Homo sapiens: one gene and its partners. The protein of the gene in region 1 interacts with the protein of each later gene in a biochemical or structural test. Each region holds a gene or a part of one and is shown in the gene's direction. Other genes may lie near its edges. The genes, in order: RAB6A, ERC1, GORAB and RIC1.

What was found.
Region 2: the proteins of RAB6A (region 1) and ERC1 form a complex in vitro, tested with the Homo sapiens proteins (one study listed by BioGRID).
Region 3: the proteins of RAB6A (region 1) and GORAB form a complex in vitro, tested with the Homo sapiens proteins (one study listed by BioGRID).
Region 4: the proteins of RAB6A (region 1) and RIC1 form a complex in vitro, tested with the Homo sapiens proteins (one study listed by IntAct).

What each region holds. Positions count from the first base shown.
Region 1 is NC_000011.10:73,675,118-73,681,083, reverse strand, and holds the end of RAB6A (ras-related protein Rab-6A), read left to right. Parts: intron 1-1,363; coding exon 1,364-1,430; intron 1,431-3,121; coding exon 3,122-3,186; 3' UTR 3,187-5,446; downstream 5,447-5,966. UniProt on the Homo sapiens protein: The small GTPases Rab are key regulators of intracellular membrane trafficking, from the formation of transport vesicles to their fusion with membranes.
Region 2 is NC_000012.12:986,733-994,227, forward strand, and holds the start of ERC1 (ELKS/Rab6-interacting/CAST family member 1), read left to right. Parts: upstream 1-4,490; 5' UTR 4,491-4,590; exon of another isoform or gene 4,591-4,755; intron 4,756-4,817; exon of another isoform or gene 4,818-4,887; intron 4,888-7,495. UniProt on the Homo sapiens protein: Regulatory subunit of the IKK complex. Probably recruits IkappaBalpha/NFKBIA to the complex. May be involved in the organization of the cytomatrix at the nerve terminals active zone (CAZ) which regulates neurotransmitter release.
Region 3 is NC_000001.11:170,528,089-170,535,175, forward strand, and holds the start of GORAB (RAB6-interacting golgin), read left to right. Parts: upstream 1-4,077; 5' UTR 4,078-4,135; coding exon 4,136-4,196; intron 4,197-4,359; exon of another isoform or gene 4,360-4,521; intron 4,522-5,375; exon of another isoform or gene 5,376-5,563; intron 5,564-7,087.
Region 4 is NC_000009.12:5,632,103-5,639,131, forward strand, and holds part of RIC1 (guanine nucleotide exchange factor subunit RIC1), read left to right. Parts: intron 1-7,029. UniProt on the Homo sapiens protein: The RIC1-RGP1 complex acts as a guanine nucleotide exchange factor (GEF), which activates RAB6A by exchanging bound GDP for free GTP, and may thereby be required for efficient fusion of endosome-derived vesicles with the Golgi compartment.

The sequences.
Region 1 (5,966 bases):
ATTTAATTTATGGGTTTACACTGTGTGCTTAATTAAAAGATAAATAATTGAAATAATCAGGCAGTTTCACTGGCTGTTGTACCCAGTGGGTGTATGCCTAAGATTGGGACAATATAAGAAGTATAAACTGTTGTTCCAGTATCTGTTCTCATATGCCTCTCAAAAGTAAACATCTCACCAGGCTTGAGTGCGTTTCTCCTGTTGAAGATAACTTTTCATAGCTTCATACCTCAAACACAAGCCAGCCACTCCCACTGACACTCATTCCAATGATGGAAGAAAAGCCAGCTGTGTTGGACTTGAGGGGTGGTGTATTAATCTCTAACATAGTGCTTTTCTAATGAACGATGAAGGATAATTTTGACTGGACTGAGTTTCACAATATATTATACACTGACTTCAGAACCTAACTCTCCCCCCCACACCCCCGCCAAGAAGAAGTCTTGCTGTGTCGCCCAGGCTGGAATGCAGTGGCGTGATCTTGGCTCACTGCAACCTCCGCCTCCCAGGTTCAAGTGATTCTCCTGCCTCAGTCTCCCAAGTAGCTGGGATTACAGGCATGTGCCACCACACCCAGCTCATTTTTGTATTTTCTGTAGAGACAGGGTTTCACCATGTCCAGGCTGGTCTTGAACTCCTGACCTCGTGATCCACACCCCTTGGCCTCCCAAAGTGCTGGGATTACAGGCGTGAGCCACCGCGTCCAGCCCTGAACCTCACTCTTTATATGAAAGATAGGAATGCTACTATACAGTTTTGTTAAATGAATGATCTGTCCTTTTTCTGCGTTTCTGTAATACTTTATTATTCAAATGACATTTTTGCTGCTTATTTCATAGCTGTTTACTTTTGTCTTATCCCACCAGTTAAAAAAACAGGAATCATGTCTTTATACCTCTTTGTATTTGGTATATTGCTTTTTATATAATACTCGTTTATAGAATGAATAGACATTTTATTTTATTATTTATTTATTTATTTATTTAAAGACAGAGTCTCGCCCTGTTGCCCGGGCTGGAGTGCAGTGGCGTGATCTCAGCTCCCTGCAGCCTCCACTTCCTGAGCTGAAGCAGTCCTCCAGGTTCAGCCTCTCCAGTACCTAGGACTATAGGCGTGTGCCACCACGCCTGGCTAATTTTTGTGTTTTTTTTTGTAGAGACAGAGTTTCACCATGTTGCCCAAGCTGGTCTCAAACTCCTGACCTCAAGTGATCTGCCCACCTCGGGTGGGTCCCAAAGTGCTGGGATTACAGGTGTGAGCCACTGCGCCCAGCATTAGACAGCTCACTGTACAGTGATCATAAACCTCAGTACCCTTTGCTAAATGTTCCCTCTCAGTTATCACTTTTCTCTCTTTCCCACAGCTCTTTCGACGTGTAGCAGCAGCTTTGCCGGGAATGGAAAGCACACAGGACAGAAGCAGAGAAGATAGTATCCTTTTTATTTCATTGGAAATTTTTCATTATTAACACTAGTCTTTAGAGCCCTGCTTGCTTGGCTAAAGAATATTGTGCCATTGCCTTTTACAACCAGGAACTGATGACTTAAAGGCATAGAAATTCATTTGTTTTCTATAGCAAATGAGGTCTGGTTATCCAAGTGCACCCTTTGCAGCCTGCTTCTCGTTGTTAATCAGTGAGAGGTTTTGTGTTTGTTTGCTTGCTTTTAAATGAGCAGGAAACTCTTAGAATCCCTGTGTCCTTGCCTCTTCATTTTGAGTCCCATTGACTCTAGGCTTTTTCCTCATGGAATATCAAATTTTCATTTCTTTTTCTAACACTTGAGCTTTCTACTTGACACAGGCAAGAAATAGAGTGGAGCTTTATTGTAGCCTCTGCTTTCAGAAACAGGACATAATATTAGTTCATTTCCAAGGATTGGGACATCTAATATTAGTTAATTCTAAGGATTTTTAATTTGATGTTTTCAGTGTTTCATATTCACCTTCTAGTGTATTTCCATATGCAGGCATTTTTATTAAGCCATATAGTTTGTAGCACTTTGTATTCAGCTCTTCCCACTTGTAAATGTTATATGTTTTCATAAAAAACATAAAACAGGCCGGGCGCGGTGGCTTATGCCTGTAATCCCAGCACTTTGGGAGGCCAAGGCAGGTGGATCACCTGAGGTCGGGAGTTCAAGACCAGCCTGACCAACATGGAGAAACCTTGTCTCTACTAAAAATAAAAAAATTACCTGGGCGTGATAGTGCACGCCTGTAATCCCAGCTACTAAGGAGGTTGAGGCAGGAGAATTGCTTGAACCCAGGAGGCAGAGGTTGCAGTGAGCCGAGATCACGCCATTGCACTCCAGCCTGGGCAACAGGATCGAAACTCCATTCCCCCCCCAAAAAAAAAAACACAACAACAACATAAAACATAATATGTTTCAAAAACAAAACAACAACAACAACAAAAAATGTTCTATTGAGTTGAAGTATGTCCCCGCGCCCACCGCCGTTTTTTTTTGAGATGGAGTCTCATTCTGTCGCCCAGGCTGGAGTGCAGCAGCGCAATCTCAGCTCACCACAACCTCTGCCTCCTGAATTCAAGTGATTCTCCTGCCTCAGCCTCCCAAGTAGCTGGGAATACAGGCATGAGCCACCATGCCCAGCTAATTTTTATATTTTTAGTAGAGATGGGGTTTCGCCATGTTGGCCAGGCTGGTCTTGAACTCCTGACCTCAGGTGTTCGGCCTGCCTCAACCTCCCAAAGTGTTGGGATTACAGGCATGAGCCACGGCACCCGGCCTGAAGTCCCATTATTTACTAAATGTTTCCTCTGCTGTTGGAACTATCTTGTAGGCTATTTTCAGATTTATATTATAGATGATTCTATGAGGAACATCATCTTCATATCACTTCTTGCCACTGTAGAATAAGTTCCTTAGGATAGATACCCATAAATAGAGCTTGTACCTCATTCTGACCCTTGTTGCATATAGTAGATATAAACAAGTTTATTCCATTTGAGCACCTTATATGGTGAGGCGGCTATGTAGAAAATAGTGAGTGTGTAGGCTCTGAAGACAGATAGGAATATAAGGGCCATCCCAGAAATGCTAGTGTTTGGAAGAATTGAAATTGTACTTTCCCATTTATGGCTTCTTAACTTTTGTTTCAGTGATTGACATAAAACTGGAAAAGCCTCAGGAGCAACCAGTCAGTGAAGGAGGCTGTTCCTGCTAATCTCCCATGTCATCTTCAACCTTCTTCAGAAGCTCACTGCTTTGGCCCCCTTACTCTTTCATTGACTGCAGTGTGAATATTGGCTTGAACCTTTTCCCTTCAGTAATAACGTATTGCAATTCATCATTGCTGCCTGTCTCGTGGAGATGATCTATTAGCTTCACAAGCACAACAAAAGTCAGTGTCTTCATTATTTATATTTTACAAAAAGCCAAAATATTTCAGCATATTCCAGTGATAACTTTAAAAATTAGATACATTTTCTTAACATTTTTTTCTTTTTTAATGTTATGATAATGTACTTCAAAATGATGGAAATCTCAACAGTATGAGTATGGCTTGGTTAACGAGCGGTATGTTCACAGCCTACTTTATCTCTCCTTGCTTTTCTCACCTCTCACTTACCCCCATTCCCTATTACCCTATTCTTACCTAGCCTCCCCCGACTTCCTCAAAACAAACAAGAGATGGCAAAGCAGCAGTTCTACCAAGCCCATTGGAATTATCCTTTAATTTTACAGATACCACTTGCTGTAGGCTACGGACCAAGATGTCCAAAATTATTCTTGAGCACTGATATAAATTACGGTCTTCTTTGAGGTCAAAATTCAGCCATCATGGTAGGCAGTGCTTGAATGAGAAAAGGCTCCTGGTGCATCTTCAAAATGAGTCCTAAAGAACATACTGAGTACTTAGAAGTAGAAGAACATAAGATGTATTTCTGACTAAAACAAATGGCTCTTTCACATGTGCTTTATTAGACTCTGGGAGAGAAAATTAACCAAGTGCTTCAGAACAGGTTTTTAGTATTTAATTCTTCACGGTAAGAAAATGAAGTTCTAATGAACTGTTTCTCCCAAGGTTTTAAAATTGTCAAGAGTTATTCTGTTTGTTTAAAAAATAAGAAACCTCTTTAAGCAATAGATTTTGCTTGGGTTTTCTTTTTTAAAAACATAATACTGTGCAGGCAAGGCACTGTAAAAGTTTTAATTCCTTCCAGAAGAACCAGTGGAAGAATTTAAATTTGGCGCTACGATCAAAACTACTGAATTAGTAGAAATAATGATGTCTAAAGCTTACCAACAAAAGAACCCTCAGCAGAATAACAAAAACTTTGCTCAGGACATTTGAGGTCAAATTGAAGACGGAAACCGGAAACCGTTTTCTTGTAAGCCCCTAGAGGCAGATCAGGTAAAGCATACATAGTAGAGGGAAAGGAGAGAATGGAAATAAAACTCAATATTATGCAGATTTATGCCTTATTTTTTAGCATTTTTTAAGGTTGGGTCTTTCAGGCTGGTTTTGGTTTGTATTAGATCTGTATAGTTTAATTAACTGGTGATTTAGTTTTATATTTAAGCTACAATTAATCTTTTTTCTTTGGTGATATTTATTTCTTTGCCTTTTTTTTTTTTAACAACTTTCAATCTTCAGATGTTTCGTTGAATCTATTTAGAGCTTCACCATGGCAATATGTATTTCCCTTAAAACACTGCAAACAAATATACTAGGAGTGTGCCCTTTTAATCTTTACTAGTTATTGTGAGATTGCTGTGTAAGCTAATAAACACATTTGTAAATACATTGTTTGCAGGACGAAAACTTCTGAGTTACAGCTCAGGAAAAGCCTGCTGAATTTATGTTGTAAGCATTACTTAACACAGTATAAAGATGAAAAGACAACAAAAATATCTTCATACTTCCTCATCCCCTCATTGGAACAAAACCTTAAACTGGGAGAACCTTAGTCCCCTCTCTTTCCTCTTCCTCCTCCACTTCCCACTTATTGTCACCTTGTAATATTCAGAGAGCACTTGGATTATGGATCTGAATAGAGAAATGCTTACAGATAATCATTAGCCCACATACCAGTAACTTATACTTAAAGATGGGATGGAGTTGTAAAGTGCTTTTATAATACAATATAATTGTTAAAGGCAAGGGTTGACTCTTTGTTTTATTTTGACATGGCATGTCCTGAAATAAATATTGATTCAATATGGCAGATGGGTCATATTCTTTATTTGGAAGAAGTTGTGACTTCTGACATGGGTGTGATTGTCTTCCTACACTGTTGCATTTGATTCTTTTTATGTATTTTTAAGAAAGTAACCAGTTATACTGCTTTTAATATTGATTGGTCTTTTTATTTGGCTTGGAGTTCTTCAAAGCATTGAAGTGTGTTCATAGTCCAGGTTTTTTTTTTAATAAACACAATTTTGCTGCCAAAAATATATAAATAAAACACGAAAGAAAACAATTATTGACCTGGTTTCCCATTCCTGCCAAGATGGTGAATTAGCATTTACTTCTCCCTCTCTGGGAAGACCTTTAAAGCAGACATGGACAGAATCCAGAAAAATAACAACAACAAATGTGAGGAACTCCTAGGGAGTCAAAGACTCTTTTTTTGATGGGGGTATTGTTGGGGGGTGGGGGAGAGGGGCTGCAACTTGAAAGATACATCCCCTGGTGGAGGCAGTAATAGGACATATTAAGAAAAGCATCTTAAGTTCTGCTTTTGCGTCCTCACTCCTAACTATACCTTTGCCTTGGGACAGGAGCCAGCAAACTGTGGCCCTCCCACCAAATGCAGCCTGGAACCAGTTTTAAAAATTAAGTTTTATTGGAACTCAGCCATACTTTCCCACTATAATGGCAGAGCTTAATAGCTGCCACAGACCTTATGGCCCTAAAACCCAAAAAACTGTTTACTATCTGGCCCTTTACAGAGAAAAGGGCAACCCCTGCCTTGGGACAACCATAGCTGAACCCCTTAC
Region 2 (7,495 bases), on another chromosome or scaffold:
GCATCTTCTAAGCTTTTTTTTTTTTTTTTTATCATAGTAACTGATTATTCTGTTTAATTCTCTCTTTTCCGGGCGTTTTCTCTCCCAGAACTCCTACCCTTCTGTTCCAATCTAACTAAGTTCCTGGGACTTCCCTTTACTGTTTTCCTGAATTGGATCTAGTGATTACTGGATGTTGTCAGATACCCTGATTTCTCCCTCATTTTGCTTGAGCACACATTTAAGTAACTCTTTTTTAAAATTTATTTTTATTTTTTGAGATGGAGTTTTGCTCACTGCCCAGGCTGGAGCGCAATGGCACAATCTCGGCTGACTGCAACCTCTGCCTCCCGGATTCAAGCAATTCTCCTGCCTCGGCCTCCTGAGTAGTTGGGATTACAGGTGCCCGCCATCATGCCTGGCTAATTTTTGTATTTTTAGTAGAGACGAGGTTTCACCATGTTGGCCAGGCTGGTCTCAAACTCCTGACATCGTGATCCACCCGCCTCAGCCTCTCAAAGTGCTGGGATTACAGGTGTGAGCCACCGTGCCCAGCCCGCCAGTTTGATTTTTGTCCTTTTATGGGCTCCTTTTTTTCCTCTTTGGAAACTTAGAATCTTCTTTATATTTAGAGTTCAAACATTTCACATGGTTGAATTTTTTTTTTCTTTTGGTTCTGCACTAGTGGATTCTTTCAGTTCTAGGAAATTGTCTTGCATTATTTTTTCAATAATTTTCTGTCCTTCATTAACTTTGTTTTCTCTTTTTCACATAATATTAGTCCTGTTGAACTAATTCTTTATCTTATTTTCTCTCACAATTTCCACCCCTTTGTATATTTATTGTTTTCTTTTTTTTTTTTTTCCTGAGACAGGATCTGGCTCTGTTGCCCAGGCTGGAGTGCAGTGGTGTTATTTCAGTTCACTGCAACCTCTGCCTCCTGGGCTTAAGCTATCCTCCCACCTCAGCCACCTGAGTAGCTGGGATTACAGGCATATGCCACCATACTTGACTTATTTTTGTATTTTTTTGTAGAAAAAGGGTTTTGCCATGTTGCCCAGGCTGGTCTTAAACTCCTGGGCTCAAACGATCTGCCTGCCTTGGCCTCCTAAAGTGTTGGGATTATAGGCGCAAGCCACTGCACCCGGCCCTATTTTCTTTTTTCTTTTTTGAAATAAGGTCTCTTGCTCTGTCACCCAGACTGGGGTGCAGCTTCCTAAAGTGTTGGGATTACAGGCGCGAGCCACTGCACCCAGCCCTATTTTCTTTTCTTTTTTGAAGTAAGGTATCTTGCTCTGTCACCCAGGCTGGGGTGCAGCACCACCATCCTGGCTCACTGCTCCGTTGACCTCCCAGGATGAGGTAATACTTACACCTCAGCCTCCTGAATAGCTAGGAACACAGGTGCGCATCACCATACCTGGCTAAGTTTTAAAACATTTTTAAAGAGATGGGGTCTCATTATGTTGCCCAGGCTTCTTCTATTTTCTTTAAAAGTTCAGTGACTTTATCTTTCAATATTTTAATTGAATTTATAATTTGGCAATTTATTTTAAATTTCAAGATCTATTTTTAAACCTTGGATTGTTACTTCATCTGAGTATCCTAGTATACTAATTAGGTTTTCCTTTCTAAATTCTCTGAAGTTTCTGTTTATCTGCCCCCACAGTCCATGTTGGAGACTTTTCTTAAATACCTAATAACACTTAGTTGTCTGTTCATACGTATGAGGCAGTTGGAATGCTGATGGGGAGTCTTGTGAACTTGGGAGGTGTCTTAGTCTATTTTATGTTGCTATAAAGGCATGCCTGCAGCTGGGTAATTTATAAAGAAAACGGGTTTGTTTAGCTCACAATTCTGCAGGCTGTACAGGAAGCAAGGCACTAGCATCTGCTCAGTTCTGGTGAGGGTTTTTGTGCTGCATCAAGACATGGCGGAGAAGGTCAAGGAAAAGTGTCTGTGCACATGCAAAGAGAAATCAAACCCGAGGTGAGTCCTGGCTTTACAACAAACCACTCTCCAAGGAACAAATCCATTCTCCTGATAACCAACATAGTTTCGCAAGTGTGAGAACTCACTACTGTAAGAATGACACCACGTCCTTCATGAAGAATCTGCCCCCATGACCCAAACACCTCCCATCAGGACCCACCTCCCAATACTATCACACTGGGAATCAAATTTCAACATGAGATTTGGTAGAGACAAAAAAACCATATCCAAACCATAGCAGGAAGTTCCTGCCAACTTGCCCAACTACACTTTAAAGTGGGTGGGTAGGAAACCAGCTATTGTGCTAGAATAAAGAATACTTTACTCTTAGGCCCTTCAATACTCAGTTAACCCAAATCTCCCCAGATTATCAGAGTGCTTAATTTTAGCCTGGATAAATGCCTAGATATTGTATCTGAGATATAGGGAGGGTTCTGCTCTTCCTTATATAGACCTTTATTTAGTCTCCCTGGTCTCAACTCTGCTTCTCACTCTTGCTCTGTCTGGTAGTTATCTCCAAATCTCCGTCTCCCTAAAGCACTTCTGGGCTGACAGGTCCCCTTCCTTTCTACAGCACCCTCTACACCCATTCTACATTATGCTTTTCTCCATTTTATTTTGTCAGACCACACTTACTTTTTGCATGTCAAATAAAAAAAAATTATCTTCCGATGTCCCCCTTCTCATTTTCTATTTTGTATCACTTTTATTTATCATCATTTTATGGGGTCTCAGGAAGAAGAGACAGTAAATACATGTGCTCGGTTAGCTAGCTTTAATCAAAAATCCTAAACGTAGGTTTTAAAAAAGATAACTGGAGCAGGGCAGGAAATAATATTTTTTGCCAGTGTGGTGGCAAAAAATAAAAAACAAAAATCTGAATCTGTGTTAGGACAGTATTTCCGTGTATAACATAGCGCTTAGCAACTTAATTCTCCAGATCCACATATTTTAAGGACATGATGTATCTCAGACACCTACTTCAAACCTCACTTTACAGTTAAGTAAGACCACAAGTAGAATGAATTGCCTGAGGCCACACAAGTAGACAGTGGGAGAATGAGAACAGAAATATCTATTGACTCCTAGTTGAATTTTCTCTTACCTTACCACACTGCTAGGGAGTAACAAGATGGGCAGATCACGAGTCAGATGAGAAAGGTCATGAAAAATAGTCAAAGGATGACTTTTCCTGGGTAAATAGCCGGATGTCCAAGAAATGAAAGGCTGGTCTGGCAGCAGCACATCGTCTAACAGTTGGTAGTCATATGTGGGAAGTACTGAAGGGGGAGATGACAGCAGGCCCAGAAACTGCAATGATCCAAGTGCATGTCGATCCTGGGAGGGAACAGTTAAGAGTCCGGGCAGGATGAAACAGTAGAAACTGGTGAGTGAATGAATGTGAAGGCTGAGGAGCGACTGCAATTTGTTAATGGGATTATGAGGCAGTATAAAGTGGTTAATTACGGTGGCGGAGGTAAGCAGGAGTAAAATGATGGCTTTTAACTCCTCTCAAGGACACCGAAAATTATTTTAATAAACACTGGAAGGCTGGGAATAAATATAATTCACACCATTCTTACTTTCTTGGTTTAGAGATAGCTTATCTACATCCTTAAATTAATGGCTGTAGCTACCCTCTGCATGGCTCCAAAAAAAAAACAAAAAACAAAAAACAAAACCAAAGCCGGCTGCGAGTCTGCACGAGAAAATCGGGTTGCACCAGGCCCCAGCCGCCCGCCGATTCGCTTAGCTGTCGGAGGCTAAATAAACAGCTCCCGAAGCAGCGTTTGGCACAGCGCAGGGTCGGAACGTGGACACTAATTTCCGCCCACGCTCCCCGCGTCCTGGCGGGATCACCACAGACACGACGTCCATTGCTGGGGTCCTCGGCGATGCCCGTGTGCGCAGCCCCGCGAGTCTCAGGTCAGAAGACCACTAATTTCGCGGCCGCGTTCCACGAAGCTAAGGGGCAAAAAACCAGCTTTCTTGGGACAAAGCGTCCCCCCAGCAGCCAGGGTCGATCCCGGCGCTGCTCCCGCGGCGCTTGGCTGCCCCGGGCGTAACGGGCCACGAGAAGTAGGGGGTGGGGCGCCGCTTAGGTTTGGGAAGACACGAAGCGGCTCCTCGGGCTTCCAGCGTCCACTTCCTACGGCAAGCAGGAGGAGACAAGCGCCACCCTGCGCTCGCGGAGCCGACCCCGGCTCTCCCCTCCCGTGGCCGCAGGGGTCGTGTGTGTGTGTGTGTGAGTGTGTGTGTGTGTGCAGGGACGCTCCGCGCCCATCACTCTGTTTCGGTGCTAATCGACCGCCGTGGCGCCGATTTCCCCCGCTTCCCAGTTCCTCACCCGCGTGCCCCGGAAGGCGCCCGGAGGCCCCCGGGCCGCCGCGTCACGCTCCCGGGAGGCTGAGGGAAAGGGAGGCAGCCGAGCCGGGAGCCCGGGGAGGCGCGCTGCGCCCCGCGGCGGGGCTGGGGGCGGGGCTAGGTGTCTCGCGCAGGGGGCGGGGCGCGGTGACGTCGCGGGCGCCTGGGCCGTGCTGTGGCGGCGGCGGCGGCGGTAGTGGCGGCGGCGGCGGTGCCTGGGCGGCAGCAGCAGCAGTAGCGGCAGCCCTGAGGACGGTGAGACGGCCGCGGCGGCGGCGACAGCGCGGAAGTCGCGCGGGACCCAGAGCTTCCCCCCTGTCGCTAGTGCTGAGGCTTTCGCCTTTCCTACCCAGCTTCTTGCTCACGGCCCGGGCTGGGCTGGGCAGGGCAACGCGCCCCCGGGGAGGGGCGGAGCTGTAGGTGAGGCTTCGCGACCCCCTCCCCCTCCTCGGCAGCCCGGGGGGTGGGGAGGGGCGGGCCCCACCCAGACCACCGGCGCCCACCCGCGGGCTCCACCCAGCCGGGCTCCGGGATCGGGCGGGAGCCGAGGCGGTAGATGTGGGGATCCTGGGGCGGGAGGTGGGGGAGTGGGGACTGGGGCTCTGGGCACTTGGGGAGCGGAGGGGGGGAGGCTTAGGACTAGTGAAGCCGCGGACGAGGTAGTGGGGAGACGGAGAAATTGGGGAGCCATGAGGTTGGGGTGCGGTCAGGGTGGATCTTTGGGTTAGGTGAGTGATGTAAAATGCTGAAGATGATTCTTTTCTTTTCGATGAAATGGTGAGATAAAAGATGAAGTGTATTTCAAAAGGACGATGAGCTGTGCATGTTGCCTTTGAGGCAGTTGCAGAACCTATTTTATTGCACTAGATCTCACGTTTCTACTTTAGGGTTCGATTCTTTTTCTTCTGGCGGGGTGGGTGGGGGGTCGGAGAGGGAAGAGAATCCCCTTACTTTGGCTCAGGTAAATTGTGAGCGTGGATGTATCTGAAAGTTTTACACCGAAGAAGAGGGAGATCTTCGGTTTAGACAACTTCGTTCCGGCAGCCACCATTTGGGTCGCATTACGCTTAGCTCCTTCAAGGTGGTGTCTTCCAGTTTTTTTTCCCCCCAATGCCTAAAAGATCTCTTTATACCACCCTTTTACAGGCTTTATCCTGGCCCCTTGAGAGAAGGCCCCAAACTCAGGTGGTTGCTTTGGAAGGCACATTGCTGAATAATAGTTGCAGGTGGTTGTGGTTGACTGCTTTGGGTGGATAAAGTGAACAATTGGAATAGTTCTGTTGGAGCTAATTATATGAAAAATGCTTAAATGTTTTAAAGTACAACCGTCTTTTATAGCGTGTTGCTTGCTCAGTACACCTTGACTTTTAGACATTTTGTGTTCAGTGCTAAATTGTTGAAATTTTATTTCTCATTTGCAGTTATGTTTCTTGCAGTCTTTATTAAAACACTTTAAAATGAAATGGAACTCTTTTTTTTTGGTAGGCTCCTCAATTTCTGAGAAATGTTCTTGGAGTCAAGTGCTTTAAAAACATTTTGGGGGCAGGTGTGTCACTTTGTATGGAAATATTAGAGTAAGCAGTGTTCAATGTTCTTCACATCACTCTTTCACAACTTAGCACTGTAAATCAGAATCTTCTTTTCTGGATTCTTGCTCCCTGTTAGATTACAGTATTCTCTGGCCCTACTTATCAGTTAGTGTCATTTAAGCTATTTCTTGTTCAGAAAACAGGTCCCATGATGGACATGTATTATGTAATGGATGGAAGTAGACATGGCTCTCAATAATTCATTTATGGAGGAAGAGAAGCTGTCAGAAAGTGGGATTTAAGCAGTGACTTTCCCAAGGCTTGCCTAGTTTATTTGGGAAAATAGCCAGAGAAGTGCTTTCTTGTAACCCAAAAGAGAAATATACAGATAAGAATTTCAGTAGTTGCAGATCGTTGCTTTTTCTAAGTGCCTACTTAATGAGCAGATTATTGTCTTCCAGCAAATACTTCTACTTTATAGAGAGGTATGGGAAACAGGACATAATAGGTATTAAGTGAGAAAGTGTGTGTTCCAATTTTTAATTATAAATAAAAGATTTAATTAACTGTATTCAGTTAATTCATTTGGTAAAGTGAACAGTTTTGACTTTGGATTAGTTAGAAGGAAAACAAAATTGACATATCTAGTTTTCGCTTTTAAATTATACATAGACTTAATTAATTGGGACAAATGTGAACTAAGATACTGGGTAAAACTTGTGTGTACTCCTAAAATGACATTTGCATGGCTGGTAGTAAGCTGTGATTCTTGTCCTTGTAGGAATGAAATCACATAATTTGGGGAAAGTCTTAAGGTAAAAGTAAGCTATTTCGTTTAGCATTTCTTGTGCCTGAAATTATGCCTACATTTTATTTTTCAAAAAATGTTGCTTGCTAGTCATTACTTGTGATATCCTTGTTGAGTCTACTGAGGTGTTTTTTTTCCTTCATTACCTGTGTCATAGATAAGTATGCCAGTCTGTTAATTCAACATTAATACTGCAAACTTAAAAGTGAAGGTTCTTGGCCGGGCGCCGTGGCTCATGCCTGTAATCCCAGCACTTTGGGAGGCCGAGGCAGGCGGATCATGAGGTCAGGAGTTCGAGACTAGCCTGGCCAACATGGTGAAACCCTGTCTCTACTAAAAATATAAGAATTAGCTGGGCGTGGTGGCACATGCCTGTAATCCCAGCTACTCAGGAGGCTGAGGCAGAAGAATTGCTTGAGCCTGGGAGGCAGAGGCTGCAGTGAGCCGAGATCATGCCACTGCACTCCAGTCTGGGCTACAGAGCGAGATTCCATCTCAAAAAATAAAAATAAAAATTGGCTGGGTGTGGTGGTGCACACCTGTAACCCCAGCTACTCAGGAAGCTGAGGCAGGAGAATTGCTTGAACCTGGGAGGTGGAGCTTGCAGTGAGCCGAGATTGCACCACTGCACTCCAGCCTGAGTCACGGCAAAACTCCGTCTCAAAAAAAAAAAAAAAAAAAAAAAAAAAAAGTGAAGGTTTTCATAGCAACAGCTGCTCGGTTTTACACTATGTTTACATTTAGAAGTATGAGAGTTGTTAAATGTGTATTTTACACATATTTCATCAGAAACATTAATGGAAAAAGATCAAGAAATGAAGTA
Region 3 (7,087 bases), on another chromosome or scaffold:
TAAACTGGGGTTGTAGTACCACAGCAACCCTGACCTTACAGGAAATGAAGGGGAACTAGATATGGGTGTTTACAGAGTGCCTTTCATGGGATACTTCTTTTACCTGGTAGACATCCTAGTTGTCTGACCCACAACCAGGGGGTCCCTCACAGGGTGATCTCTTTTATACTGGCAGACACCCTTGTGGCTCTTGTCTGACCCACATCCACTCAATGCCTTTCTGACCACTGCTCTGGCACTGGGAGTCCAACCTGTGTTTCTCCAGGGCAAAACTTGGTCTGGGGTAGCCCCATGTTCTCCAGATGGAAGGCACAAATTCAATACACAACCACAATAGGAAATAAGTTCAAAGATTTTTACTTACAGATCCTGAGTAAGGAAGGCATAAGGGTTAGAAAGGCAGTCCTATATCCCCAAGTCGTAGGTAGAAATGAAGAGTCAGGCAAAGGAGCAGGGACAGGAAAGGAAGAGAGGCAACTGGCAGTATAAAAAAGGGAATTGGATGGGTCACTTTACATTCGAGGATAAATGCTGGTAAAGCAAGGAGCTCAGTCTGTAGACAGAAGAGATGAGAACTTTTAATTAGTGCTGTAAAAAGTTATAAAAAACATAGAAGTGGGCGGGTGCTACTTAGATAGGGTGGTCATAGAACGTCTATGTGAATATTTAAGGCCAAAGCGTAAAGAAGCAGGAAGAACCAGCCAGACAAGGGAAAGATAATAATTAAAGGACAGCATTTGGGAAAGCTCTGGGTAGGTAGTAGAGGATAGTAGAAAAGAGAGTCTGGTGTATTCCAAAACCCCAACGAATGCCAATTTTGGCTGGATTATAGTGAGTGCAGAGTAAAGGGAAAGACAGCCTAATGATCACATAAGAGAGGTAGACAGGGGTGAGATCATGTAGGAACATGCAGGAACTGGGATTTTATTCAAAGTGTGCTGGGAAAGCATTTTACTGTTTTGACCAGGCTACAGACACAATTAGTCTTCATTTTTATATTCTAGGCGCTCTGATGGAGAATCAACCAGAGATATTGTCTAAATTGTCATAGGTGGTCCCCTTCTATAAACACATAAAGATGCTAAATACTGTATAACATGTTCTTATTTATGTAAACAAAAAATATATATCACAGAGCCTAAAAGAAAGCAAAGAAGATGTTGAAAGGGGGGGCCTCTACCTAGATATAGGTCCTGGGGATTGGGATTCCTACACATAATTTGAAGACAAGATTGCTGAAATAAAGCTGAGTCTAGAAAAGACAGACCATATGATCACAGAGGGTTAGAAAAACTCCAGGCACAGTGGCTCATGCCTGTGATCCCAGCAAGTGGGAGGCCCAGTTGGGCAGACCGCTTGAGCTCAGGAGTTGGAGAGCAGCCTGAGCAACATGGCAAACCTCGTCTCCACAAAAAAATATAAAAATTATCCATGCATGGTAGTGGGCACCTATAGCCCCAGCTACTCTGGAGACAAAGACATGGAAGGATCGCTTGAGTCCTGGAGACAGAGGTTGCAGTGAGCTAAGATCATGCCACTGCACTCCAGCCTACGTGACAGGGTGAGACCCTGTCTTTAAAAAAAAAACAAAAACACAAAAACTTAAGACTGTTGCTTTGGAAAAGCAGTAAGGAGGCTTGCTATCTGTGAGTAATATTATTATGTTTTTTGTTTACATAAAAACATATAACATGTTTTTATTTACATAATCAAAAAATACATCATAGAACTTAAAAGAAAGCTAAAGAGATATAGAAAGGGGGATTCTATGTAAATATAGATCCTAGGGATTGGGATTCCTTCACATATTTGAAGACAAGATTGTTGAAATAAAGTTGTGTATAATTTGTATACATATAAAGGCAATTAAAAAATACTGAGACCTGAGTCCTATATCATATATGGGGGTGGGACCCAAGAACCAAATTTACAGTAGAAGCTGAAAAAATTACCTTAAATCTGGATTAAAACAACTGAAACTTTAGGACCAATAAAACCAATCTGTAGAGACACTTTCTTAACTCAAGGAAGAGAAGACTTCTGCAGAACAAAGAACTTTGAAGATAAATTCCCACTTAAATATTACACAACATTTGAAGAAACTAGCCACCATGAGGGAGAGCCAACAGAAACAACAAACAGGAGATTTAGAACCTAGCAAACTGGAAATTATAACTTTTATACAGACGGATTTTATTATCTTTTACCACGTGTCACTTTCGCTTTGGTTCTCATTAAGGGCCAATGCAAAACCTTTTAAAATATCCTAATTTACATCTTTATTAAGATTACGGATAATTTTTGAAATTCCCCCAGAGTGAACTAAAGAACATTTATGTATAAAATTCAACATGGGGCACACAAGGTGGTTTACTGTTATTAGATGAACTAGATGGCGGTTGCCTGCAACTAGGAAACTGAATTAACTACCAGATTGCCACTGATCCCCATCTACTACTTTGGAGCTAGATAATCTATAACTTGAATATACGTAGTCTATATTCAGTCTATATTCAGAAACTGGTGGTAACTGTCTCCTCCAGGCATTTTGATTGTTTAATATTATAAAAAATGAGTACATATTTAAAATGACGCATCTGCAGCATCCCCAAATTTCAGAAACCACTTTAAGTTTTAAAAGCTCGGATTTACATGGGAAATTCCAAACATCCTTCACTTTTTATCACTTACTAAATCTGAAGTACTCATTTCAACTTTTCTTGACGTGTTTTATTTTGTACTTTACTCCTTTCTTTCATTTTGTTTAAAAATATCAACACACTAAAGCCAAAGTATTTTAAAATGTAAGCCAAGATGAGGTGTTTTGTTGTTCTTACTGCAAAAATAGTGAAAGAGAACCATGAAAAATAGTATAACTAGGTCTCTCTTGAATCATCCTTATCTATGTGTATTTTGACAACGCTTGCATCTTTTAATCTTTGCAACCATATTTCAAATGAGGAAATGGGATCTCAGGTTAGTGTTCAAGGCAGAACCCGAATTACGGTATTAGGATTCCAGGCAGGATCCTAAGAAATGCTTTCCCATCCCCCAGCACCGACGTTTTACAATGTCTTCTCTGAAAAACAGATTTAAAGGGGAGACTAAGAAATCCCGGCCGGGCGCAGTGGCTCACGCTTGTAATCCCAACACTTTGGAAGCCCGAGGCGGGCGGATACCCTAAGGTCAGGAGTTCGAGACCAGCCTGGCTAACATGGTGAAACCCCGTGTCTACTAAAAATACAGAAAATTAGCCGGGTGTGGTGGCCGGCGCCTGTAATCCCAGCTACTCGGGAGGCTGAGGCGGGAGAATCGCTTGAACCCGGGAGGCGGAGGTTGCAGTGAGCCGAGATCGTGCTATTGCACTCCAGCTTGTGCAACAAGAGCGAAACTATGTCTCAAAAAAAAAAAAAAAAAAAAGTAAGAAAAAAAGAAAAAGAAATCCCTTAAGAGGAAAGTTACATATTATAATTATTCACAAAGGAAACAACCCAAAGCAAAAGAAATCTGAGAGCCGCTCCGGCCTGCGAGAGACCTGGTTATGCCTGTTCCCTTTTCATCAATTATACCCCACCCCTTTTAAATGTTTCTTCATCATCAAAATCCTAAATCTGATCATTTCCTGAGTTAATCTGAAGGAGGCCTCCAGCGCTGTGCACACTCCCAGCAAAACACAAGGATTTTAGGGCACACTAAGAGCCACAGAGAGCACCGCTCCCGCCCCACAGGTACAGGACCCCAAAGGCACTTAGATCTCCCGTTTCCGCCACCGACTTGTTGCTCCTTCCCAAATACCTGTTTATCTCCACCCTTATCCCCATCGCCATTTCCCCCCTTAGCTCCTGAAGCGATTAACCAGCAACAGTGAGAAACAATGAGAGAGAGAGAGAGTAGAGGTAAGCCAGAGGAAACGAATGTCTGCGTGGCAAGGTTTCCTTAGGCAGTTTGTCAGGCACTGCTGAAGGCAGCCTGGAAGGAAGCCGGACCCTGAGGCCGGGGAGAGAGGGCCTTGTGTTTGGAGCCCGATGCACTGATTGGCCGCGGCCGGGGAAAAACCCGGATGAGCTGGGCAGCAGTGTTGGCAGTCGCGGCTGCGAGATTTGGGCACTTTTGGGGGTGCCGGTGGCCCGGGCCGATGGCGCAAGGTTGGGCAGGATTCTCTGAGGAGGAACTGAGGAGACTAAAGCAGACTAAAGGTTACAAGATGGGTTTACAGTGGTTTAATTCTTGGGTCTTAAGGGGAAGAGGCGGGGATGCAGCTTTGGCGGGGAAAGGGGGCGTGGAAGCGGCTACGTTTGTGTTAGCGGAAGGCGCTGTAAGTACGTGGACTGGATTAGGGGGTTTCAGAGGAGGACTTACTGGGAGTCACGACGGGAGGGGCAAGCCAGAGGACTGGGATCTTCTTTTAGAAAAAACGGTCCAGGAATCCACTGTAGGGATTTGACTCTTGTGAAAGGAATGGGACTTGGGAGAGGAAGTGAGCCTACAGCCGGGGTGTCTCCCTTAGGGAAGATTGCTGCAGGAATCAACGGTTGGAAGGTTAGGGTCAGGGTAAGGGAAGGAGGAGGGGCGCACACCGTATTAGAATTGTGATGAATTTATAGAAGCAGATGGTTGGAAAAAAGGAGCACAGGCGTCTGAATAAAGGCAAAAATTCGGTACTTTTCACAATTCATCTGGAGTGTTGCATTCACTTCTGGTTGCCAGATGATTTTTGCAGTACTTCCCAATTTTTGAGAATCAGCAAACCAAAAGGGTCTTTGAGAGGGTAGATGTGAAGACTTTATATGTTTATATACATACAGTCTTACTGACTTTGGAGTAAGCTAACCTTGTGCTTCTCTCTCTGGCTTTATAGAGTAATCATTGAATGGGCTTGTACAATTTTTTTGTTGTTGTGGAAGGAATTAAGTTTGCTGATTGTTGGTGGAAAACTTAGTAATATTAATTGCACTTTGCTTGTGGTTGAAATTTCGCAGTGATCTGTATGGTTATCGTGGTAGTACACACAATTTCTGTAAGAAGTGTACATCACTCTTGGTACCTTAATTCAAATACTTTATTTTGGTAGCAAATGAAGTAAACCTTTTGTTAGCGTTTGTGGGGAAATTGGATGTTGCTCTGGTAGCTTGTGCATTTTTAGCATAAATATGAGAATAATCTAGGGCAGACAAGTGGGAAAAGAAGTAAATTAGTAAGATAGGGCCAATGTAGATTATATCGACTGGGGACATTTTGACTGGTCCAGGGGACTTTAAAAACTCTATCATAAAGGTTAGGCTAAGCTATGTAGTTAACTGACTCTGTGTTGCTTGATATACTCAAATTCTTTTGCTTTGTGTTTTCAACATCCATTCACATACTTTGATATACAGGGTACAAGTGCCCTGGCCTCTGGTCTGACTCCAGTAGACTCATGAGGAGACAAACCACAAAGTTATGTGATAGTAGATATTGCAAGAACTTGCTTCAGAGACAAGAGGAACCTCACTCTGCCGGGGATTGGATGGAGCTTGGGAAGATTTCACAAAGTTTGTGTGTTAGCAGAGGCGCATTTTCCAGGGTAAAGATGACTTAATATAAAAATCTAAATTAAACAACATATTCATTATGTAGAAGTATATTTTGAAATATCTTTGCAACCGGGGGTAGATAGAGGATGGTGAGGACCTGAACTTCAAGGCCCACTGTAGTGTGGAAACCAAATCGCTAGTCCGTGACCACCTCGAGGACGGAAAATATCTTAACCTCCTTGTATACCCGTAGCTAAACACAGTGATTGGCATATAGAACTTCCAGCTCTTCCTCTAAATCTTTTCTCCTTGGATTCCTTATTTGTAAAATTAGAGGATTTGGCCCTTTAATTTTAAAGCCATTTCTAGCTGTTCTCTATCTTTAAAAATTTATTGAATAATTTAGGAAGATGGAGTTGGTTGCCAGGAAAAATAAGGACAGTAGTACTCTGGAGACCCCTGTATGGGCATTGAGGAACATAGTCAAGAAAGTTGTTAATAGTCTTGTTTATAATATTAAGAAGTTGGAAACAACCAAAGTGTCCATTAACAAGGGAATGGATAAATAAATTGTGGTATACTCATCTAGCGGGCTACTGTACAGCTGGTGGGAATATATTAGTATTAACTGTAGCCACATGCATTAAAATGTTTGTTAATACAGTATATGTAGTTACACTTGGCCCTTGAACAACACAAGTTTGAACTGTGATGGTTCACTTATACACAAATGTGCATTTAAAAAATACAGTATTTGGGGGATGCAAAACCTGAGTATATGGAGGGCCAACTTTTGGTGTATGTGGTCTTCACAGCGCCAACTGTGGGACTTGAGTATGCACAGATTTTGGTATACATGGGGATCCTGGAACCAATTATCCTCATATACCAAGGATCAGCTAGCTGTATATATAATATATACAGTCACGCACTCAATAACAGTATTTCAGTTAGCAGCGGACCACATATATGGTGATGGTCTGGTAATATTATAATACCCTGTTTTTACTATGCTTTTTCTATGTTTAGATACACAAATACCGTTGTTACAGTTGCCTACAGTCTTCAGTATAGTGACATACTGTACAGGTTTGGAGCTTAGGAGCAAAAGGCTGTACCATATAGCCTAAGTATATAGTAGGCTGTACCATCTAGGTTTGTGTAAATACACTCTCTGATGTTTGCGCAAGGACAAAATTGCCTTACAACACATTTCTTAGAATGTATCCCTTTGTTAAGTGACGTATGATTGTATATAGTGGGGAGGCGTGGGAATGTGATCAGGGAGAGGGAATTTCAGAGGTATTGGTATTTATGAAATCAGGTTAAGACAAGTTAAGCTAAAGTAACAAATAGCCCTAATAAGTCAATTGTTTAAAATAAAGATTTGGTTTTCACTCGTTTCATGTTTAATGTGGGTTTGGCAGGTGACTGTGTTGCACAGTCACTCCGTTTTTTGGTGCTGTCTTGTAGGAGTTTACCATAGTAGGAAGAAAAGAAGATTGAAAATTGAACATTGGCAATTAAATCCTTTCACCAGTAAATGACATGTGACACTCCTACTTTTATTTACC
Region 4 (7,029 bases), on another chromosome or scaffold:
ATTTGAAGGCAGGGAGACATGCTCGTAGAGATGATAAAACAAGATTTGCTTACCTGAAATTTTGTTAGGGCTCACTTAGTAAATCAGGCTCTCTTAGGAGTGATATATTTTAAAAAGAGACAACTAGCCTTGTGGAAGGGACAGTCGTTTAGTAGTCTAAGCTGGTTGTTTCAATGTTCAAAAGAATTGTGGAAATTGTATGTGTACAGTGATAATTCATAAGACTGAATCTCTATTAAAATCTCTAACTGTACATTATATGGGTCTTCTAATGAACTTTTATGTACTACTTATACCTACTGTCCTCTATTCTAAGTAGGTATTCGGAATTCCACTGTTTAGACTCATATCTCTTCAGAATTATTTCCTACCCCAAATTTGAGAAATACAGTATAGTGTTGTTTATGAACAAAAGAGCCTCTAGATAGTTACTTAGCTTTTTTATATTGGAGCCCCAATATTATATTTTGGAGCCCCCCAAATGGTGTTAAAAAAAGGCTCAGTATGTGTAGGCTAGATTGGGGTGGTAGAGGTAGAACTTGACTGGGGGCAGTTGGTACATTTCTGCTAAGGTTATTGTAAAAGGACTAGTTTCAGCTTTGAGGATGAAACTGTTGCATAAGGTAGGTTATGATTTATGATTGACGTAGGTGTAGTGTGAGATGAATTACATTTTGTACTGTACTGAGGGCCCAGAATTATTCCTTTAATATACTAACTGTGACTATGAAAGTCTATATATGTGAACATCAGAATGGTATCTTTGAATTTAGCCATTCTAAATTAGATGTATAGACATTCTCGTTTTTCAGGTCACCGACTTTAAACATTTAAATTAGCTTCAGAAGTATTTTTGAACATCAACTGTAAAAGACAGATGTGTATAAAAGGGATGAAGAGACATGTTATATGTTAGTGTGTTAGATGTTAGTGTGTTAATATAAATCTTGTGAGATATCACTGTTGTAGGTAGCTAATAAAAAGCTGAAATGGGCAAATAATTACTAGGCTTATAAAATAAATTATATGTCGTTTAGTAATCCTGAGCAAAAACTTAGTTCCCATTGGTATGTGCTAATCATGGAAAAAAACAATGATATGTCAAAAGAACCAAGCTTTGGATCAGGTATGTGATTAACTGTGTTGACCTCAGGAAGACCATTTTATTTGTATTTTCCCAGCATTCCCATTTCTCACCCTTTTAACTCTATTACTTTCTCCAGAGAGCCTTCTTTATAAATTCACTGCTCTGAAGTCTTCTAGGGTTCACTGTTGATGAAAGAATGGAGTTCAAACTCCTTAGTTTGATATCACAGACACTCCCTTCTTGGAATGCTCTCTTGCCTCATTTCTGCCTGTCAGAGTATTATCTATCCTTTAACTGCTGTTGAAATCCTTTCTTTATGAGTCATTCTTTACCTACCGTAACCATAAGTGTTCATTTTTCTGATGAACTACTGCTTCCCCACTACTGCCAGCTTTGTTGAGGTATAATTGACAAATAAAAATTGTATATATTTAAGGTGTGCTGTGCGATACTTAGATCTACCCTGTGAGTTGATAATCACAATCAGTCTAATTAACAGATCCACCATCTCACACAGCTCCCTCTTTTTTTGTATGTGGGATGAGAACACTTAAGACCTACTCTCTTAGCAAATTTCAAGTATACAATATATGTTAATTATGGAAATAAATGTCATTATTAACGATAGTTACTGGGCCATGCATTAGGTCCCCAGAACGTATTCATCTTATACCTGAAAATTTGTACCTTTGACTGAAATACTCCCATTTCACCCACCTCCCAGCCCCTGGTAATCATCGTTCTATTCTCTGTTCCTATGAATTTGACGTCTTTATATTCCATATATGAGATCATGAAGTTGTTTTTTGTCTTGCTTACTTAGTATACTGTCCTTAAGTTTTGTCCATGTTGTTGCAGATGGCAGGATTTCCTTGTTTTTTAAAGGCTGAATAATATTTTATGTGTGTATGTGTGTGTGTTACATTTTCTTTATCCATTCATCTATTGACAGACACTTAGGTTGTTTCTGTATCTTGGCTACTTTGAATAATGCTGCAATGAATATGAAAGTGCAGATATCTCTTTGAGATACTGATTTCAATTCCTTTGGATATATACCTAGAAGTAGGATTGTTGGATCATGTGGTAGTCCTGTTTTTAGTTTGAGGAACTTCTGTTTTCCATCATGACTGTACCATTTTGCAGTCCCGTCAATAGTGTACAGGGAGGGGATCCCTTTTCTCCACGTCTTTGCCGACCTTGTTATGATTTAACTTCTTGATAATAGATATCCTAACAGGTGTGAGGTATCTTATGGTTTTGATTTGCATCTCCCTGATGATTAGTGTATTGAGCACCTATTGGCCATTGGCTGTTTTTTGGTAAAACATCTGTTCAGATCTCTTGTCCATTTTTAAATTAGGTTATCTGTTTTGTTTTTTTCTCGGTACTGAGTTGTATGAGTTCCTTACATATCTTGAATATTAGCCCCCTTTTAGATGTATGGTTTGCAGATATTTTCTCCTATTCCATAGGTTGCTTTTTTATCTTGTTGATTGTTTTCTTTACTGTACAATAACTTAATTTCATGTAATCCTACTTGTTTATTTTTGCTTTTGTCACCTGTGCTTTCCATGTCATCCAAAATACCATCGTGAAAACAGATGTCAGGGTGTTTTTCCCCTGTTTTCTTCTAGGATTTGCATGGTTTCAGGTTTTACATTTAAGTCTTTGATCCTTCTTCTTATTTTAATTTTTGTGGGTACATAGTAGATCTGTGTATTTGTGGGGTATATGGGATATTTTGATACAGGACTATAGTCACCCTGTTGTACTATCAAATACTAGATTTTATTCATCATCATCACCATTATTATTTTGAGACAGGGTCTCACTCTGTCACTCTGGAGTACAGAGTCATGATCATGGCTTACTGCAGCCTCGACCTCTTGGGCTCAAGCAATTCTCCCACCTTAGCATCCTGAGTAGCTGGGAGTACAGATGCATGCCACCATGCCTAGTTAATTTTTTGAAGAGATGTGGTCTTGCTGTGTTGCCCAGGCCGGTCTCAGACTCCTGGACACAAGTGATCTGCCCATCTCAGCCTCCTAAAGTGCTAGGATTACAAGCATGGGCCACCACACCCAGTCCTTATTCATTTTTTCTATTTTTTGTACCCATTAACCATCCTTCCTTCCCCCTCCGTCTTTAATCCTTCTTGAGTTGATAGTGTAAGATAAGGGTCCAGTTTCCTTCCTTAGCATGTGGATATCCAGTTTTTCTAACACTATGGTGTTGAAAAGTCAGTGTTGCAAGATGTGTTTTCTCCATTCTTAGCACTTTGTGAAAGATTGACTATATATGCATGCGTGGTTTTATTTCTGGACTCCATTCTGTTGCATTGGTCTATGTATCTCTTTTTATGTCAGTACCATACTATTTTGATTACTATAGCTTTGTAATATACTTTGAAATCAGGTTGATATGGTTTGGCTCTATTTCCCCACCCAAATTTCATCTCTAATCGTAATCCTCATAATCCCCATGTATGGAGGGCAGGACCTGGTAGGGGGTCATTAGATCATAGCGGGAGTTTTCCTCATGCTGTTCTTGTGATAGTAAGTTCTCACGAGATCTGATGGTTTTATAAGTGTTTGACTGTTCCTTCTACACGCTCTGTCTCTCTCTTGCCTGCCAGCATGTAACAAGTGCCTGCTTCCCCTTCTGCCATGATTGTAAGTTTCCTGAGGCCTCACCAGCCATTATGGAACTGAATCTATTCAACCTTTCTTTATAAATTACCAAATCTCAGGGAAGTTTGTTATAGCAGTGTGAAAATGGACTAACACACAGGTAATGTGACACTTCCAGCTTTGTTGTTCTTTCTCAAGATGGCCTTGGCTATTCATGGGCTATTGTGGTTTTGTATAAATTTTAGGATTGTTTTTCTGTTTATGTGAAAATATCATTGAAATTCTGATAGAGATTGCATTGAATCCATAGATTGGTTTGGATAGTAGGGACATTTTAACAATATTAATTCTTCCAATCCATGAACATAAGATATCCAGCCATTTATTTGTACCTTCTTCAGTTTATTTCATCAGCATTTTATGGTGTTTAGTGGCGGTTAAATGTATTCTAAGTATTTAGTTTTTTGGAGCTACCATAAATGGTATTGTTTTCTTTTTCTTTTTCTGTTTTTTTTAGACAAAGTCTCGCTCTTGTCACCGAGGCTGGAGTGCAATGGAGCGATCTCAACTCACTGCAGCCTCTGCCTCCTGGGTTCAAGCAATTCTCCTGCCCCAGCCTCCTGAGTAGCTGGGATTACAGGTGCCTGCCACCATACCCGGCTAATTTTTGTATTTTTAGTAGAGACAGGGTTTCACCATGTTGGCCAGGCTGGTATCGATTCCTGACCTCAGTTGATCTGCCTGCCTCAGCCTCCCAAAGTGCTGGGATTATAGGTGTGAGCCACCACTCCCAGCCATGTTTTCTTAATTTATTTTTTAGATACTCATTGTTCTTGTGTAGAAACACAACTTATTCTTGTATATTGATTTTATATCTTGCAACTTTACTAAATTCATTTCTTAGTTCTAAATTTTTTGGTGGTTTTTAGGTTTTTCTAAATATAAGATTATGTCATCTTCAGAGACAATTTTGCTTTTTCCTTTGAACTACTGCTTTATATCGTAAGTTTTGCACTTATGCTTTATTTCTCCAGCTAGATTATAAGTTTCTGGAGCACAGAAACTATCTTAATTTGTATTATCTATAGTGCCTTGTACAAGGAAGATGTTTAATAAACATTTTTAATATTAATGAATTTAAGGTATTTGTCATACGTGTGGCACAGCAATTTTTTTTTAAGTTTTAGTGTTTTGATTTTTGTGAGAACACAGTAGGTATATATTTATGATTTTTTTGTTTGTTTGTTTGTTTTTGAGACAGGGTTTCACTTCAGTTGCCCAGGTTGGAGTGCAGTGGCACAATCTCAGCTCACTGCAATCTCTGCCTACTGGGCTCAAGCAGCTGTCCTGCTTCAGCCTCCCAAGTAGCTGGGACTACAGGTGTGCCCCACTGCACTTGGCTAATTTTTTTTTTTCTGTAATTTTTTATAGAGATGGGATTTCACCATGTTGCCCACGCTGGTCTTGAACTCCTGAGCTCAAGTGATCCATCCACCTCGGGCTCCCAAAGTGCTGGGATTACAGGCATGAGCCACTATACCCAGCCATGAGATATTTTGATACTAGCGTGCAATTTGTAACAATCAGTTCATGAAAAATAGGGTATTCATCCCCTCAAGCATTTAACCTTCATGTTCCAAACAATCCATATGTACTCATAGTTATTTTAAAATATACAATTAAATTATTTTGACTGTAGTCACCCTGTTGTGCTATCAAATACTAGGTCATACTCATTCTCTTTTTTTGTACCCATTAGCCGTTCCCACCTCCCTTCCTATCCCCCCAGTTACCTTTCTCAGCCTCTGGTAATCATCTTTCCACTCTTTATCACCATTAGTTCAATTGTTTTGATTTGTAGATCCCACAAATAAGTGAGAACATGCGATGTTTGTCTCTCTATGCCTTGCTTATTGCACTTAACATAATGACCTCTAGTTCCATCCATGTTGTTGTAAATGACCGGATCTCATTTTTTTTGTAACTGAATAGTACTCCATTATGTGCAAGTACCATGTTTTCTTTATCCATCCATCTGTTGATGGACACTTCCAGTACTGTGTTGAATAACAATAGTGAAGGTGGGCATCTTTGTCGTGTTCCAGATCTTAGAGGAAAGGCTTTCGGTTTTTACATACTCAGTATGATACTAGCTATGGGTCTGTTATATATGGCTTTTATTATGTTGAGGTATGTTCCTTCTATACCCAGTTTTTTTAGGGTTTTTATGAAGGGATGTTGAATTTTTATGAAATGCTTTTTCAGCATCAGTTGAAATGATCATATAGTTTTGGTCCTTCATTCTGTTGATATGATGTATCACATTGATTGATTTGCATATGTTGAACCATCCTTGCATCCCTGGAATAAATACCACTTGTTCATGATGAATGATCTTTTTAATATATTGTTGAATCTCATTAGCTTGTATTTTGTTGAGGGTTTTCACATCAGTGTTCATCAGAAATATTGACCTGTAGTTTTCTTTATTGATGTGTCTTTGTCTGGGTTTGGTATGAGGGTAATCCTGGCCTCATAGAATGAGTTTAGAAGTACTCCCTCCTCCTGTATTTTTCAGAACAGTTTCAGTAGTATTGGTGTTCTTCTTTAAATGTTTGTTGGAATTGAGCAGTGAAACCACTAGGTCTTGGGCTTTTCTTTACTGGGAGACTTTTTATTACAGGTTCAATCTCACTGTTGTTAGTCTGTTCAGGTTTTGAATTTCTTCATGATTCAATCTTGGTAGGTTGTATGTGCTAGGGATTTATCCATTTCCTCTAGATTTTCCAGTTTATTGGCATATAGTTGCTCATAGTAGTTTGTGATGATCGTTTGAATTTTTGCGGTATCAATTGTAATATCTCCTTTCTTATCTCTGATTTTATTTATTTTGGTTTTCTCTTTTAAGGTTTGTCAATTTTGTTTATCTTTTCTAAAAAGCAACTTTATGTTTCTTTGGTCTTTTGCATTATTTTCTTCATTTCAAGTTAATTTATTTCTGCTCCATCTTTATTATTTCTGTTACTAATTTTGGGTTGTTTGCTCTTGCTTTTCTTGTTGTTTAAGAGGCATCATTAGGTTATTTATTTGAAGTTTTTCTTCTTGTTTTCTGAGACAGGGTCTCTCTTTATTCTCCAGGCTAGAGTGCAGTGGTGCAATCTCGTCTCACTGTAGCCTCAACCTCCCAAGTTCATGTGATCCTCCCACCTCAGCCCCCTAAATAGTTGGGACTACAGTTGCATGCCACCGTGCCCAGCTAATTTTTGTAGAGACAGGATTTCACCATGTTTCCCAGGCTGTTCTCAAATT